4 linked regions of the Homo sapiens genome follow. The protein of the gene in region 1 purifies or fractionates together with the protein of each later gene. This does not show direct contact. Each region holds a gene or a part of one and is shown on either strand. Other genes may lie near its edges.

Region 1 (4,281 bases):
CAAGGACATTCCTCCGAGTAACTAGCCTGTCTATCCTGAATTGTGTATTTCCCGCCTCTACTGGATCTTTTGTTTTATTTTATTAACTAATTCATTTATTTGAGACAGAGCCTCGCTCTGTCGCCCAGGCTGGAGTGCAGTGGTGTGATCTCGGCTCACTGCAACCTCTGCCTCCCGGGTTCAAGTGATTCTCCCGCCTCAGCCTCCCAGGTAGCTGGGTTTACAGGCGTCTGCCACCACGCCCGGCTAATTTTTGTATTTTTAGTAGAGACGGGGTTTCACCACGTTGGCCAGGCTGGTCTCCAACTCCTGACCTCAGGTGATCTGCCCACCTAAGCTTCCCAAAGTGCTGGGATTACAGGCGTGAGCCACTGCGCCCAGCCTAGATCCTTTTAATTAGTACATAAACTTACTATAATTTCTTCCATCTTTTTTATTTTATTTTTTTGAGACAGAGACTAGCTCTGTCGCCCATGCTGCAGTGCAGTGGCGGGATCACGGCTCACTGCAGTCTCTACTGTCTGGGCTCAAGCGATCCTCCCATCTCAGCCTCTCAAGTAGTTGGGACTTCAGGCGGGTGCCATGCCAGGCTAGTTTTTTATTTTTTGTAGAGATGAGGGTCTCACTATGTTGCCTAGGCAGTTTCAGACTCCTGGGCTCAACCAATCCTCCCACTTTGGCCTCCTGAAATGTTAGGATTACAGGCATAAGCCACCACACTCAGCCCCATCTTTGAATTAAAAAAAAAAAAAAAATTAGAACGTGGAAAAACGCAACAACAAAAGATTAACAAAATCCCTATCCCATGATAGCCTTATTTTTCTGCTCACCTTAAAAACAAAACTTCTTAAAAGTATTGCGTATATTTGCTTTCTCCATTTCCTCTCCTCCCATCCTTCCCTCCAACTCCTATCAAATTTTCATCAGACTTTATCAAACTTCCACCACTGCCAAAATGGCGTTTCAACATCACTGGTGACCATTGCTACAGTGGCCCATTCTTAATTCTCATTTTACTTGACCTATGAGCAACATTTGAGACAATGGGTCACTCCCTTCTTGAAACACTTCCTTCCCTTGGTTTTGCAGATCTAAACTCTCCTACTTTTCCATCTACTTCATGGATTATTCCTTCTCAGTCTTCTTTGTTGGATCCTCTTCACCTCTCCGACTTAACCTGGTGCATTGCTAGAAGAAACCCTGCTGAGTAAGAGCAAATTGTTTTTAGCATACCGCCGATTTTACTTTCCAGTATTTAAAAATGCTGTGTATCCTTTTAAATGAAAACGACTTAAAAAGCGTGGCTCTCAGGCTAGCAATAGAGATACCAACCCGGGAATCTCCGCACCACCCCCCAAGAGGAAGCAGCGTCTGACGTCTTCCGGAAACGAGCTCCACTGGCCTTATGGGAAATGTGGTCTCCGACGGATGGCCTACACCCGGGAGGAGTCCAGGAACTCTAGGTGGACAGTTACTTCCGCACACGCGTAGTAGGACGGTAGCCGGTATTCAATCTTCAAATCAGCGCCGCGGGAAGTGCGGGCGGGTGTTGCTCCCCTGTCTCTGGACGACGCTGTGACTGATCCCAGGCTTGGAGCCGGAGCTGCGAGCGAGGCAGTGAAAGGGTGGCAGGTATGGCTTTGCTGGACTCGGAGGACGTAAGAGAAAGGCGGGGACTGGCTTCTAGGTTTACCCTACCGAAGATAAAACTTTAGTCTCCAAGCGCAGTGACTTCAGGTTTGGATATGTGGGTCCTGTTCAACTCGAGTAGCTGAGAGAAAGCAAGAGTTGGGCTCCGACTGGCACTGGGTAGATGTCCAGGGCTCTGGTGGGACTGGGAGAGGCTCAATTTGCATTCCTGCTCTTGTAGGTCAAGGTCACTATGTAGGAGTCTGTTCATCTAACTGTACCTTTCCTGGTTCCAAGAGCATAGTTGGCCCGACTGGAGCCTGCGACAATTTTAAGCCGTGTCAAGGGATCCAGTGGAAACTGTAAGCTATTTCAAGGGATCCAGGAAGAAAGCATTCTTGAGAAACTGCTATGGATTAGAAGGGTATTCTCAGCAATCATTTGAAGTAAATGCTATTACCATTTTGCATATGAGTTAACTGAAGCTGAAAGGTGAAATTACTTGCCTGGACTCACACAGCTTAGTAAGTGGAAGAACTGAGATTCAAACTCAGATACATTTTCTCCAAATTTCTTTTTTTTTTTTTTTACAGTATAGCATTCCTGCATAAAACAGAGTTGGGTTTATTCTCCTGAAATGTTTGAGCAATGAATGCTGAGTAAATTTCGATTTGTAGTCATTTTGTAGAGTCTCTTGGTGTATCTGCAGATCTTCCAGTGCAGACTGTGTAAATGAAGATGTGAGTCCCCGGTTTGCCCATTATACCCTTTCTAGAGCCCCAGCAGTTCTAAGCTCATAGGAGATGGCGAGTTTCTACAGAGAGAAACATTTGGAGTTTAAACTGAAGGATCCAGCTTAACAAAAAAAAAATAAAAAAAAGTGTTCCTGGGTCCCTGAATCCAGCCTTCTCAAGAAAGCCCAACCTAATTTGCAATCTCTTATCCCAGCGTCAGAGTAGAAACCAGAGAATCACAGGAAGGAATCATTTTTAGACTTACGGAGCTTCAGAGACCAAGCTTTTAAGTGAGTCAACTCATTCATTATTTCTTCAGGATAAATTTCTGGGAGGAAAAAAAATAACTGTTTCAAGAGGAACCACTTGGTGCTAGATCAGTAGGACAGAAACATATAACATCCTTATCTAAGCTCCATATATTCCTAACAATCACAAGTAGAGATCTGTGCTTATGGAACATGGACTTTTCTGTCTTGCTAGAAATGTCATTCTCCCCCACTAGGTGGCATTTTCTGAGGCTGCAGTGTGGGTACTTATGGTCTGATAGAGCAGGGTTCTACTTTGCATGCAGTCCTGGTATCTCAGGTCTTTCTATTCTCTTCCCCATTTCTACTTTCATAGATTTCTGTGTAAGAGCTGCAGAAAATGATCAGCTTCCAGGTAAGGTATCCATCTATTCATCCAGTTGTTTAAATCTCCCAAAAATCCATATGATAAAAAGGAAATGTATGGTCAGGAAAAATGTAAACCAAATAAAAGATCAAGTCTAAAAGGAAATTTAGAAGATTGGTAAGTTGATATTCAAGTCATAGGGTTTGCAGATGGTTGGAACAAATTTGAGCTGCAAATGTGTACTCAGTCTTCCTGGAAATCATAGTAAATGGATAACCAGCCAGTTAAAAAGTATTGGCATTGCTGTGAAGATAAAGCAAAATTATTCTCCTTGTAAGTAAAGTTTTTCCTGACACAGTTCTTTGAAGAAAATCTTTTCTAATGAGTTTTCACATAGATAACATTAGAAATAACATTCACAGCAGCAGCCTGCGATAAATACAGCATCAGGTTTCCTATGACTTTCTTAGAGTATTCCCTAGAGTAAGAACATAGTGCCAAGCAGCACTAAATGAACTCAATTTATAAGTCCAGGTATGTGGCCTTTTTAATGCCCACCTGGATCCATAAGTAAATCTTGTACCTTTTCCAGTCTCTAGCTATCCTGAGCATTTACTCTTCTACATGAATTTTAAGGTCATCAAAATAACAAATATTGTCAAGGTTCATAAAGCAGTATGTTAGGTATTCTTTTTTTTTTTTTTTTTTTTGAGACAGTCTTGCTCTGTTGCCTAGGCTGGAGTACAATGGCGTGATCTCAGCTCACTGCAACCTCTACCTCCCAGGTTCAAGCGATTCTCCTGCCTCAACCTCCCAAGTAGCTTGGATTACAGGCATGTGCCACCACGCCCAGCTAATTTTTGTGTTTTTAGTAGAGACGGGGTTTCACCTTGTTGACCAGGCTGGTCTCGAATTCCTGACCTCAAGTGATCTGCCTGCCTCAGCCTTCCAAAGTGCTGGTAGGATTACAGTTGTGAACCACTGCGCCCGGCCAGATATTCTTATTAGGATTGCATTAAACTTAATAGGTTAATTTGGAGAGAATTCATGACTTTTCAATGAGTCCTATTTATTCAGGTTTTCTTATAGGTCTTTTATTATAATTTTTTTTTTTTTTTTTTTTTTGAGACAGAGTTTCACTCTGTTACCCAGGCTGGAGTGCAGTGGCACAATCTTGGCTTACTGCAACCTCCATCTCCTGAGTTCAAGTGATTCTCCTGCCTCAGCTTCCTGAGTAGGTGGGATTACAGGTGCCCGCCACCACGCCCGGCTAATTTTTGTATTTTTAGTAGAGACAGGGTTT
Region 2 (3,500 bases), on another chromosome or scaffold:
GTAAGTCTAATTTTATCTTTAAAGTGAATTTGATTCTTAATTATTTACATGAAGGGAGATGACATAAAGGGAAAGAAACAAAGGTAAAGTTTACAAAAAAGAACAAAGGCTACAGAGGAATGACCTCTTTTCCTCTGCTGTCACTTAACGTATAGGGCAGAAAGGTATCAAAAGCACAATTTTAAACTATTCTGTGGGTAATTTCATGAAGTGTTCTTTTAAAAATACAATAATATTTAATAAAGTTAGAAATAAAAGATTTAATATAGAATCTCCACGGTCCTTGGGGGGAAAATAAATAAATAAAATAAGAAATATGGCCGGGCATGGCGGCTCATGCCTATAATCCCAGCACTTTGGGAGGCTGAGGTGGGAGGATCACTCGAGGTCAGGAGTTTGAGATCAGCTTGGACAACATGGCAAAATCTTGTCTCTACTAAAAATACAAAAATTAGCCGGCATGGTGGCAGGTGCCTGTAATTCCAGCTACTCGGGAAGCTGAGGCAGGGAAATTGCTAGAACCCAGGAGGCGGAGGTTGCGGCGAGCTGAGATCGTGCCACTGCATTCCAGCCTGGGTGACAGAGTGAGACTCTGTCTCAAAACAAAAAAAAAATCAATCAATAAATAAAAATAAAGAAATAAAATAAAAAATAAAAATAAAGAAATAAAAGATTTAAGCATCATAGCATACCACTGGTGCCTTGTCAAGCATCAATTCATGCCATCTTTTGTAGGGTGGTAAGTCAAGATTTATGGTGTACCATGGAACTGCACCTCTGTACCTGTAATGAGAGGTGTATCATCTTGAAATGATGAAAGGGTTTTTTGTGAGGGTCAGTTAGATACATCTATAAGAATATATGAGAGGCAAAGTCTTAACAGCAGTGTAGAATTTGGTTACCCAAACCAAAATTTGGAAAGAAAGTTCATTCTCTACCTAGTGCTTCTAGGTTGAGAACACAATCATAAGCGGTCACAGAAATCCTGGAATAGAATGATCTAGTAGGGAAGGTTCATGTGAATTGGTTTTCTATGAAAAAATCAACTATGGCTTAAGAGCTCTAACCTGATTATCACTGACGGGAAATACCTGCCATTTTTTTTTTCTCCTAAATATCTGCAAAGATTTAGTCTGGGCTCTAGACAATTCTCCAATTGGTTTCCAGTTTCAGAATTCTCTCTCAGAGAGTGTAACACTATTGCCAAACCAATGTCTCCAGTGTTGCCTTCAGGAAGATCACCTTTTAAGCCCCAGATGGCAACATGTATTATCTTCCCACGATCAGCTTCAAGAACCTTCATGATTCTGTCAGCCATCCTAATCTTCCCTACTATATACCTCTTCTCTTCTCATTTTCCTGGACAAAGTCCAAGCCCAAGCTGTATTCTGTCATATCCTCCAACTTCCTACTCTTTAACTTACGTGCAGCAATTTCTGAGGATATAGCAACATCCAGTCACTTATCAGTGAAGCTGGGCCATATTTCTGGTGGATGAATTCTACAACTATTTTTGTTGCTATAGGAACATTATTTTCTGGCCCTGGTTACTAAACTGAAATAGCTTTTAAGGGTGTGCCAGTTAGTGGTTTATCAGTATAAACCTATGCCTAAAAATAACCATCATCTGTTCCACTGATCTGCTCCTGAGACTGGCAGGGTGACTCTGGTATGTGCCACAATGATACCAGTCTCCTAAATAGAAATGTTATCTAGACTTATGTCCATAGCTGGGGATGGGTTATTACCTAAGTCATGAACTGTGGTTCTATTTATATTTCCACTATCATAAATAATTACTTGGTTCTCTAAATAATGCTGTGTAACTTGGGGCCCTGGTATATGTATGAGGTTTTATGAAACTGTTAACTAGCAGACATTCAGGTTGTGATTTAGACAGAAAAGTATATTCGATTTTGGAAATGTACATTTAAACAAAATCATAGTGAACGAATTTTGTTCTTCTCAAAGCATTTTCAAGTTCCCCATTTTCTTAGGAGCTGATATCTACATGAAATGCTACAATACTTATATTCTAGAAAAAAACTTTTCATCACAACAAATTAATTCCATTTCTGACAGACCATAATTTCACATGTAAAATTTTGTCCCACAATTCAGTAAGTAATTATTGTTCCCCATATTATGGGCAGGTATTACTAGTCTCCCCTCTCCCTTCAACTGTGCATTTAGATTTCTATGTCTAGTAGCAAAGATAACTCAGTGGCCTGTTGGAGATATGCATCTCATCCCTATGAACTCCAATCAGCTGCTCCTCACCTCATAACATCCAACCAATCCCAAATCATGCCTCTATACCCGCCATAAATTCCTGATTCTTTTTCAGCCTAGAGTCCTGGGTAGGTTCATGGATCTCAGAGACGCGATGAGAGGGGATGAACACAACACAACGGACAATGAAGGGATTACAATGAAGTGGGGATGATGAGACCCCACAAACCTCTCTACCATCAAACCTGCACTAATTAGAATTTGAGAGAACTGGTTAATCTAATAAACCAAATTATTTTAATGACTAAAGCTTAGCCATAATTGCACATTTTACCTCTCGTTAAACAGTTTTCTAAAACATTTCAGTATTTAACTTGTGCGCCTCCATTTCCCCATAAGAATAAAAGAGTATCCACCTTATAACAGCAGGGAAGACACTATATGAAAAATGCAAAAATAAAAAAAACACTTAGCAGCATTGGTATTCAATCAACAGTAGTCATCACAATTTATTTTCCTACTTCACTGCAAACAAGAAATATCATTTCATCATTTTTGAGACTTAGTGTTTGCAATGTCCATGCCATTCATAATATCAGCAACATCACCTGAACCCACATGGCTACCTAGGTGGCATGGAAACTAGTCCAAGTGACACAACACACACATATACAAATAAGAGAGCAAGTGCTAGGCATCCCGTGAGCAGTGGGAAAGAAATGCTGAATGGGACTCAGATGGACTCAGGGGTGATCTGGCTATCAGTTCCTTTATCTTCAGCATTGATTTGACTAGTCATGCTGGCCAAACAGGTTATCTTTTTCTTCCCTCATATCTGCCCATGGATGCTGCCCAAATCTACGCACTTAATTGAAAAGGATGATCTCAAAGGAACAGAACGTCTGTTTGTCATTCAAAGGTACATAAATACCACAGTTATCTCCTAAATCTCAAGATCCATTGATAGAGTTGAGAGAAGAGAAGGATAAGAGCAAAGCCGAGGCTTTTTGTGTAGGAAAGCAGGCTAGTGAGATAAAAAGAAAGCTAGCGAAAAAATGAAGGCAAGGAAAGAAACATACAAGTTATGTCCATGTATACACGTGTATGTGTTTTGGAGTACATATGTATGTATACATGTAGGTATGTATGCACATAGGTAGACACACACTCACATGCACATGGCAATAAGAGTCAGTAAAATGCCTAATCAGGAAAGGTTTATGGTTTGCAGGGCATTCAATTTATAGACACATGTAAAGTGCACCTAA
Region 3 (2,299 bases), on another chromosome or scaffold:
CATATGTTGAAATCCTAACCCCCAGTGTAATTGTATGAGGATAGGGCCTTTGGTAGGTGATTAGGTCAAGAGCGTAGAACCTTCATGAATAGGATTAGTGCCCTAAGAAGAGACCCCAGAGACTTCTCTTGCCATTTTTTTTTTCACCATGTGAGAACACAGAAGAGAGAGCTGCCTATGAACCAGGAAATGGGCGCTCACCAGACCTGACCATGCTGGCACCCTGATCCCAGACTTCTAGCCTCCAGAACTCTGTGACAAATTTTTATTGTTTATAAGTCTATGATATTCTGTTACAGCAGCCCAAACTGACTAAGACAAGGGGGAAGTAGAGTGAGGGAGGGAAGTAAAGGGAGCTTTTATGAAAGACATGTCATTTTTGAGTTGGGTCTTGAAGAACATATAGGTTTTGGACATGCAGAAAAACATATTTTTAAGGCAAATAGGCACAGAGGAGCAAAGATCTAGGAGCAGGAAATCAAAGGGCATCCTGGGGGGAAAGCAAGTAATATGATAAAACCAAGGCTGGAAAGGCCGAGTGGAACCAAAACACAGGGTTTTTTAACGTCAAGCCAAAGTCCTTGGACTTGCTTGGAGGACTGTTGTAGAGTGTTATGTATATTGGTGGGGCAGAGGGTTAGTAAAAGGACACAATCAGAGCTATGCTTTAGAAGGATTAATGACTCTTAAGGAGTTTAAGTTGGATGGCAGTGGGAGAGATGGAAGGCAGGGAGACCAGTATAGGGGCAACTGAATAAATATCCTAACCTGAGCAACATAGTGGGACCCTGTCTCTACAAAAAATTGAAAAATTAGCCAGGCTTACTGGCACATGCCTGTAGTCCCAGCTATTCAGGAGGCGGAGGCGAGAGATCACTTGAGCCCAGGAGTTTGAGGTTGCAGCGAGCTATGATGGCATCAATACACTCCAACCTGGGCAAAACAGTGAGACTGCGTCTCAAAAAAAAAAAAAAGAAAGAAATATAACATCCTGCTTCACTGACCTCCCTAATTAAAATAGCTAGACGACAAAACTTTGTATTAAAATAGTAACTGTACTATGTAACAACAGGTGAGTCTTCTCATATATGGAACTCACCCCCCAAGAATGCAGCAATGGTATGTGGCTCAGCAGCTCCATATCGGCAACTAAAGGAGACCACAGAGACATGAATTTTGATTAGCCTTATGACAGGTGTGGAATCATCTCCTAGATACCCTAAAAAATACTCACAATTCGTGGACATAATCATCTTTCACCATTACAGATAAACCATATTCCTGAAGGAAGCCAGTGAGACAAGACTTCAACTTTCCTATATCTTCTTCAACTTGATAGTTAGATACTCCTAAAAATAAAAGTTAGTTTTCATTAAAATAAATGTGATTCAAAATTAATGGCCAACTCCTTTATTTAATCTAGTTTCAGATGTTCTAGTCAAAATATGTATGAAACTGAAGAACAAAAATAACAAAGTATGAGACCAATATTTGCACATATCACAAACCTATAATCAGAGACCAACTAAAACCTAGTAAAAATTTGAATTTAATTAAATCTTTATTAATTGCATCATATTCACTGTCTAGAAAAGCATCTGGCACATAGTGCTTAATAATTATTTGATAGAAGAACTTAATGAATGAGAAAGTAATGTCCTACTTATACCCTTTATAAAAGTTATTCTCCAATTCTAAAAGACTAAATGATAAATGACACTGAGGACATAAAGCTATTAATAATAGGTAACTTTTTTTTTTTCTTTTGAGAGAGAGTCTTGCTGTTACCTAGGCTGGAGTGCAGTGGTGCAGTCTCGGCTCACCGCAACCTCTGCCTGCCGGGTTCAAATGATTCTCATGCCTCAGCCTCCCAAGAAACTGAGACTACAGGAGTGCGCCACCACACACAGCTAATTTTTTCTATTTTTAGTTTCAGTGTTGGCTAGGCTGGTCTCGAACTCCTGGCCTCAAGTGATCCACCCGCCTTGGCCTCCCAAAGTGCTGGGATTACAGGTGTGAGCCACCATGCCTGGCCAATAATAGGTCACATTTATTGAGCATTAATAGATGCTGGACACTGTTCTAAGGACCTTATATCTATATTAATTGATTGAATCCTCAAAACAGTCCTATGAAGTATGTATAGTTATCTCCATTTATAGAAGAGAAAACTAAAGCACAGAGAGATTAAGTTACTTAGCTCATAAGTGATGCTGTATGACTTCCAAAGCTAGGTCATAAAAAGCCCTGTACCTTCCACTTGGGTTTTTTGGAATGTTAACTGCAGAAGCCAACTGAC
Region 4 (4,216 bases), on another chromosome or scaffold:
CACGGTCTGTGAGGTCTTGATCCTCAGAAACGAAGTACAGGCTGGGTATGGTGGCGTGCACCTGTAGTAGCAGGTACTTGAGAGGCTGAGATGGGAGGATCACATGATCCCAGGGAGGTAGAGACTGCAATGCTGCACTCCAGCCTGAACAACAGAATAAGACCCTTTCTTTAAAAAAAAAAAAAAATACAGGCCACAAGCAGTTAACCTCGCAGTTAATTTGGGAAGAATTTTTTCCAAAAATCATGTAAAATATTCAATTCAGCTTTACAGTTAAAAATAAGAAATTCCATTCTTTTAGGGAAGATGAAAAAGTCCTGTTGCATGGATGGTGGTGATGGCTGCACGACGATGTGAATGTACTTTTGCCACTGAATTGTATCCTTAAAAATGGTTAAAATGGTAAAATTTTGTTATGTATATTTTACACAATAAAGAAAAAAGAAACTCCAAATGTTCTTTAATAAATGCCTTAAGCGGCCGGGTGCGGTGGCTCACCCGGCCTGTAATCCCAGCACTCTGGGAGGCCGAGGCAGGCAGATCATCTGAGGTCAAGAGTTCAATAAATGCCTTATGCATCTTACAACTGTATTGGGAAGAGAAGAAGAAATCAGCAATGAGGGAGTGAAGCAGAGGCCTGGGAATCATGATGTGGACAGAAAGAAGGGACAATCAGGAGCCTCCCCTGCACCTGCTGCAGTCCCAGGCCCGTGTTCCAGGGTTCTTCAAGGCAGAAAGCCCCAGTGCCTCACCCCAGGAGGGGGCTTTTCTCTCATATCCCAGCCCCTTGGGAGGCTTTTTCTTCTCACTCCCTGGGCTGGGAGTCAAGAAGACCTCAGTAGGAGTCCAGCCTCTGCAGCCTTGCTGCGTGTCTGACAACAAAACCCTTTCCCTTTCTGGGCTTCAGGGTCACCGACATGTACCACAAGGAGGATTCCCAACCTCTCTTCTTGCCCAAACGCTGCATGATTCTCTCAGCGACGATACAGCTCGTCCGGTTCACCCTGCCTAGATTCTAGCAGGAACTATGGTGCCCTGAAGGTCAAGCCCATGGTGATCTCCTTGGTCAGCCCCAGAAGGGACCCTGGGCTCTCCTTCTGCTCTTCCTGCTGCCCCTTCATGGGGCTGGGAAAACCTAGGACCTGCTTCTCCCACCCTGAGGCCCCTACTGTGTACCAGGCCCGGGTAAGGTACCAGTCACATACTCGCACTTAGGCCTCACAGTTCATCCCATTTTATGCACAAGGCGACTCAAAGACTGAGTCTGGCCCAGAGAAGGCCTGCAGGAGCTCCGAGCCCCGCCTGGGCGCCGGGAGCAGGGGCGGGGTCGTCCGGGACCCTTTCCCGGAAGGGAGGCCGCAGGGGCCTGCGGGGCGGGGCCTGCGGGGCGAGGCCCGGGGCGCGTCCCGGAACCAGAGACGGGGCAGCGCTCGAGTTCCTGCGCGGGACTGCCAAGGCACGACCACGGGCCGGAAGGCTGCCAGGCCCAGTGGGCAAGCGAAGAAATGAACCACCGCAACGCGGGCGCTTCGGGGCGGGGCCGAGTGCGAACCTGAGCCCCAAATCCCGACCCAGGCAGGGGCGGGGCCCGGAGCGGGGCCTTGGAGGCCCAGCCCGCGCGGCGACGTCTCCGCGTGGCGTCACGGCACCGACTGACGGCCACCCACCATGGCCGCAGACCAGCGCCCGAAGGCCGACACGCTGGCCCTGAGGCAACGGCTCATCAGGTACCCGGGCGGGGGGCGGGCGGCGGGGGGCGCGGGGCTGCGCGGAGAGGCACGCGCACGCACGACGCACGCACGCACGCACTACGCACGCGCCTCCGGCTAGGAAGCCGCTGCTACCCATCCCGTCCGGCCGCTGCCCCGGCCCCGCTGGAGCTTCTAGGGCCCGAGGCGGGCGGCGCCGTTGGGCAGTCCCGGCGGGTGGTCTCCGGGGCCGCCTCCCCGACAGCGCCGTCTCCAGGCCGCCCAGTTCAGGAGACGGCCCCGCCCTCACCGCTGTTCGGCTGTGTCAGCCTCGCTTGGCAGCCTTTACTCCGGAGAAGACCTTCACCCTGGCGCCTGAGAGGACCTCACCCAGGGTGGCCCGTCAGCAGCACCTGGGCCTGGCTCGAGAGTGACCTGGGAGGGGGCTGAAAGGGCAGACAAGGGAGAGTCGGGGGAGTCGGTTCACAGGCAGCACACTTGACCTGTGAGGGGGCCCTCGGTGGGACGGTGGGTGAGGTCGCCTCCCACTGGAGCTTAGGGCTGGCACCCAGCGAGGGGCAGCAGGGCCACGTGGCTGGCAAGGAGCTGTTTAGGGCTGAGAGCCAGGCACCTAATGTTGGTGCCCTGGCCCATCCCATCGAAGACACGCGGCCTTATGGAGTCCCCATGGGACGGGGCAGCCACCTTTTCTCAGGATCCGGGAGACTGACGCGGACACATGCAGAAATGAGCAAGGAGGCCACAGAGGCTGAAAATGCTTTCAGAAACAATCCGAAGTTTCAGCGACTTGTTACCCCATCTGCTTCCTGCTTTGCAACCACCTGTGGAGTGGAGAGACAAGGCAGGGAAGCAGCACCTTGCCCTTCCAGCTCTCATTTCCCCCCCGCCACCAGAAACTGGGAAGGGGTGGGCGGGGGTCTGCGATGAGTAGACTTCACCCTTTCGGTCTTCAGACATGGCTGTCCACTCCTTGCCTGTCCCCACAGCTCTTCCTGCAGACTCTTTTTTCCCGAGGATCCTGTTAAGATTGTCCGGGCCCAAGGGCAGTACATGTACGATGAACAGGGGGCAGAATACATCGATTGCATCAGCAATGTGGCGCACGGTCAGTATCACACCTCAGGCTGGCAGGGCAGGAGAGGAAGGCAGTGCTGTGAACCTGGTCCCAAGGTGACCTGAGATTGCCGAGAGGTGTGGAGAACCTGGGTGGAGTTGAGGCACTGTCAGTATGCAGAGGAGGCTCAGCCTTCGCAATATAGCTGTGGAATTCTGCAATCTGGAGCTGTGCTAAACCAGGCAGGGGTCAGCAATCTAGGTCTGTGAGTCTAGTTCCACTTGGGACTGATGATGAGCTCACAAAGTGGCAGATGGCCCAGCTGTGACCAGCAACGTAGCACAGTGCTGGCCAAGTGCTGGGGTCATGGCAGTGCTTCAGCCCCATTGGCCATCTCAGGTGCTAGGCAAGGGAGCTGAAGTAGGAATTCAGTCATCTTGATGAGGCTGCCAGAGCTGATGGAAAGAAAGGGAGTCTGAGACTCAGCAGGCACATGGAAGATGAATAAAGTTGAGGTTAAAAAAAAAAAAAAAGCAGAGACTCTAGTCTTAGACTGCTTGGGCTCAAATCCCTGTCCCCTACTTACTAACTTGTGATCTCGGGCAAGTTACTTAATTCTCAGTGCCTCAGTTTGCTTATCTGTGAAAGACATAATGATACTAGGTACCCACTTTAAGGTGTTTGGAGAATTAAGTGTGTTAATTTATGTAGCTTGCTCTGAATGTGCCTGGCACATGGTGAGCTCTCAGTACATATTCACTGTTATTATCCTTGGCCTTTGACAATCAAGATTACCACCAGCCCCCTTGGCTGGTGAAGTGAAACCAGTTGACAGTCACCCCCCACCCCACCTTTGTCATACAAGCCTCAAAAGGCCTTCCAGCCTGGGCAACATAATGAGACCTTGTCTCTACCAAAAAAAAACTTAAAAATTAGCCAGGCATGGTGACTGGTGTCTATAGCCCCACCTGCTCAGGAGGCTGAGGTGGGAGGACCACTTGAGCCCAGGAGTGTGAGGATGCAGTGAATGCCATGATCACACCATACACTCCAGCCTGGGTGACAGAGTAAGGCCCTGTTAAAAAAAAAAAAAAAAGTCCTCCTTAAAGACATGGGCTTTCTAGACAGGGTTCTTCTGCTGAAGCGGCTTTCCTTCTGCCAGAATCTCAGGAACTCCTGGATCTGCCTTTCCAGAACCAGCTTCTCTCTCCCTGCTCTGCCTTCAGACTGCCCTCTTTCTACCTCTCCCTCTAGAACTACATCTCTTCTGGCTGGGTTTATAGCTTGGGGCTGGGGGAGGCCCAGTGGGACTGGCTGAGTGGAGCCAGCCGTGTGACGGAGGCGGCCCTCTTCCAGTTGGGCACTGCCACCCTCTCGTGGTCCAAGCAGCACATGAGCAGAACCAGGTGCTCAACACCAACAGCCGGTACCTGCATGACAACATCGTGGACTA

Evidence for each region.
Region 2: the proteins of ZNF684 (region 1) and ASAH1 purify together in Homo sapiens (affinity purification with mass spectrometry, with the first as the bait; one large-scale study listed by BioGRID). This does not show direct contact.
Region 3: the proteins of ZNF684 (region 1) and NAE1 purify together in Homo sapiens (affinity purification with mass spectrometry; one large-scale study listed by BioGRID and IntAct). This does not show direct contact.
Region 4: the proteins of ZNF684 (region 1) and PHYKPL purify together in Homo sapiens (affinity purification with mass spectrometry; 2 studies listed by BioGRID and IntAct, with this or other methods). This does not show direct contact.

Annotation. Positions count from the first base shown.
Region 1 is NC_000001.11:40,530,156-40,534,436, forward strand, and holds the start of ZNF684 (zinc finger protein 684), read left to right. Parts: upstream 1-1,481; 5' UTR 1,482-1,632; intron 1,633-2,987; 5' UTR 2,988-3,011; coding exon 3,012-3,026; intron 3,027-4,281. UniProt on the Homo sapiens protein: May be involved in transcriptional regulation.
Region 2 is NC_000008.11:18,070,608-18,074,107, forward strand, and holds part of ASAH1 (acid ceramidase isoform a preproprotein), read right to left. Parts: intron 2,670-3,500; coding exon of another isoform or gene 2,649-2,669; intron 784-2,648; coding exon 693-783; intron 1-692. UniProt on the Homo sapiens protein: Lysosomal ceramidase that hydrolyzes sphingolipid ceramides into sphingosine and free fatty acids at acidic pH.
Region 3 is NC_000016.10:66,804,678-66,806,976, forward strand, and holds part of NAE1 (NEDD8-activating enzyme E1 regulatory subunit), read right to left. Parts: intron 1,350-2,299; coding exon 1,235-1,349; intron 1,150-1,234; coding exon 1,100-1,149; intron 1-1,099. UniProt on the Homo sapiens protein: Regulatory subunit of the dimeric UBA3-NAE1 E1 enzyme. E1 activates NEDD8 by first adenylating its C-terminal glycine residue with ATP, thereafter linking this residue to the side chain of the catalytic cysteine, yielding a NEDD8-UBA3 thioester and free AMP.
Region 4 is NC_000005.10:178,230,003-178,234,218, reverse strand, and holds the start of PHYKPL (5-phosphohydroxy-L-lysine phospho-lyase), read left to right. Parts: upstream 1-1,416; 5' UTR 1,417-1,668; coding exon 1,669-1,727; exon of another isoform or gene 1,728-2,375; coding exon of another isoform or gene 2,376-2,550; intron 2,551-2,695; coding exon 2,696-2,814; intron 2,815-4,119; coding exon 4,120-4,216.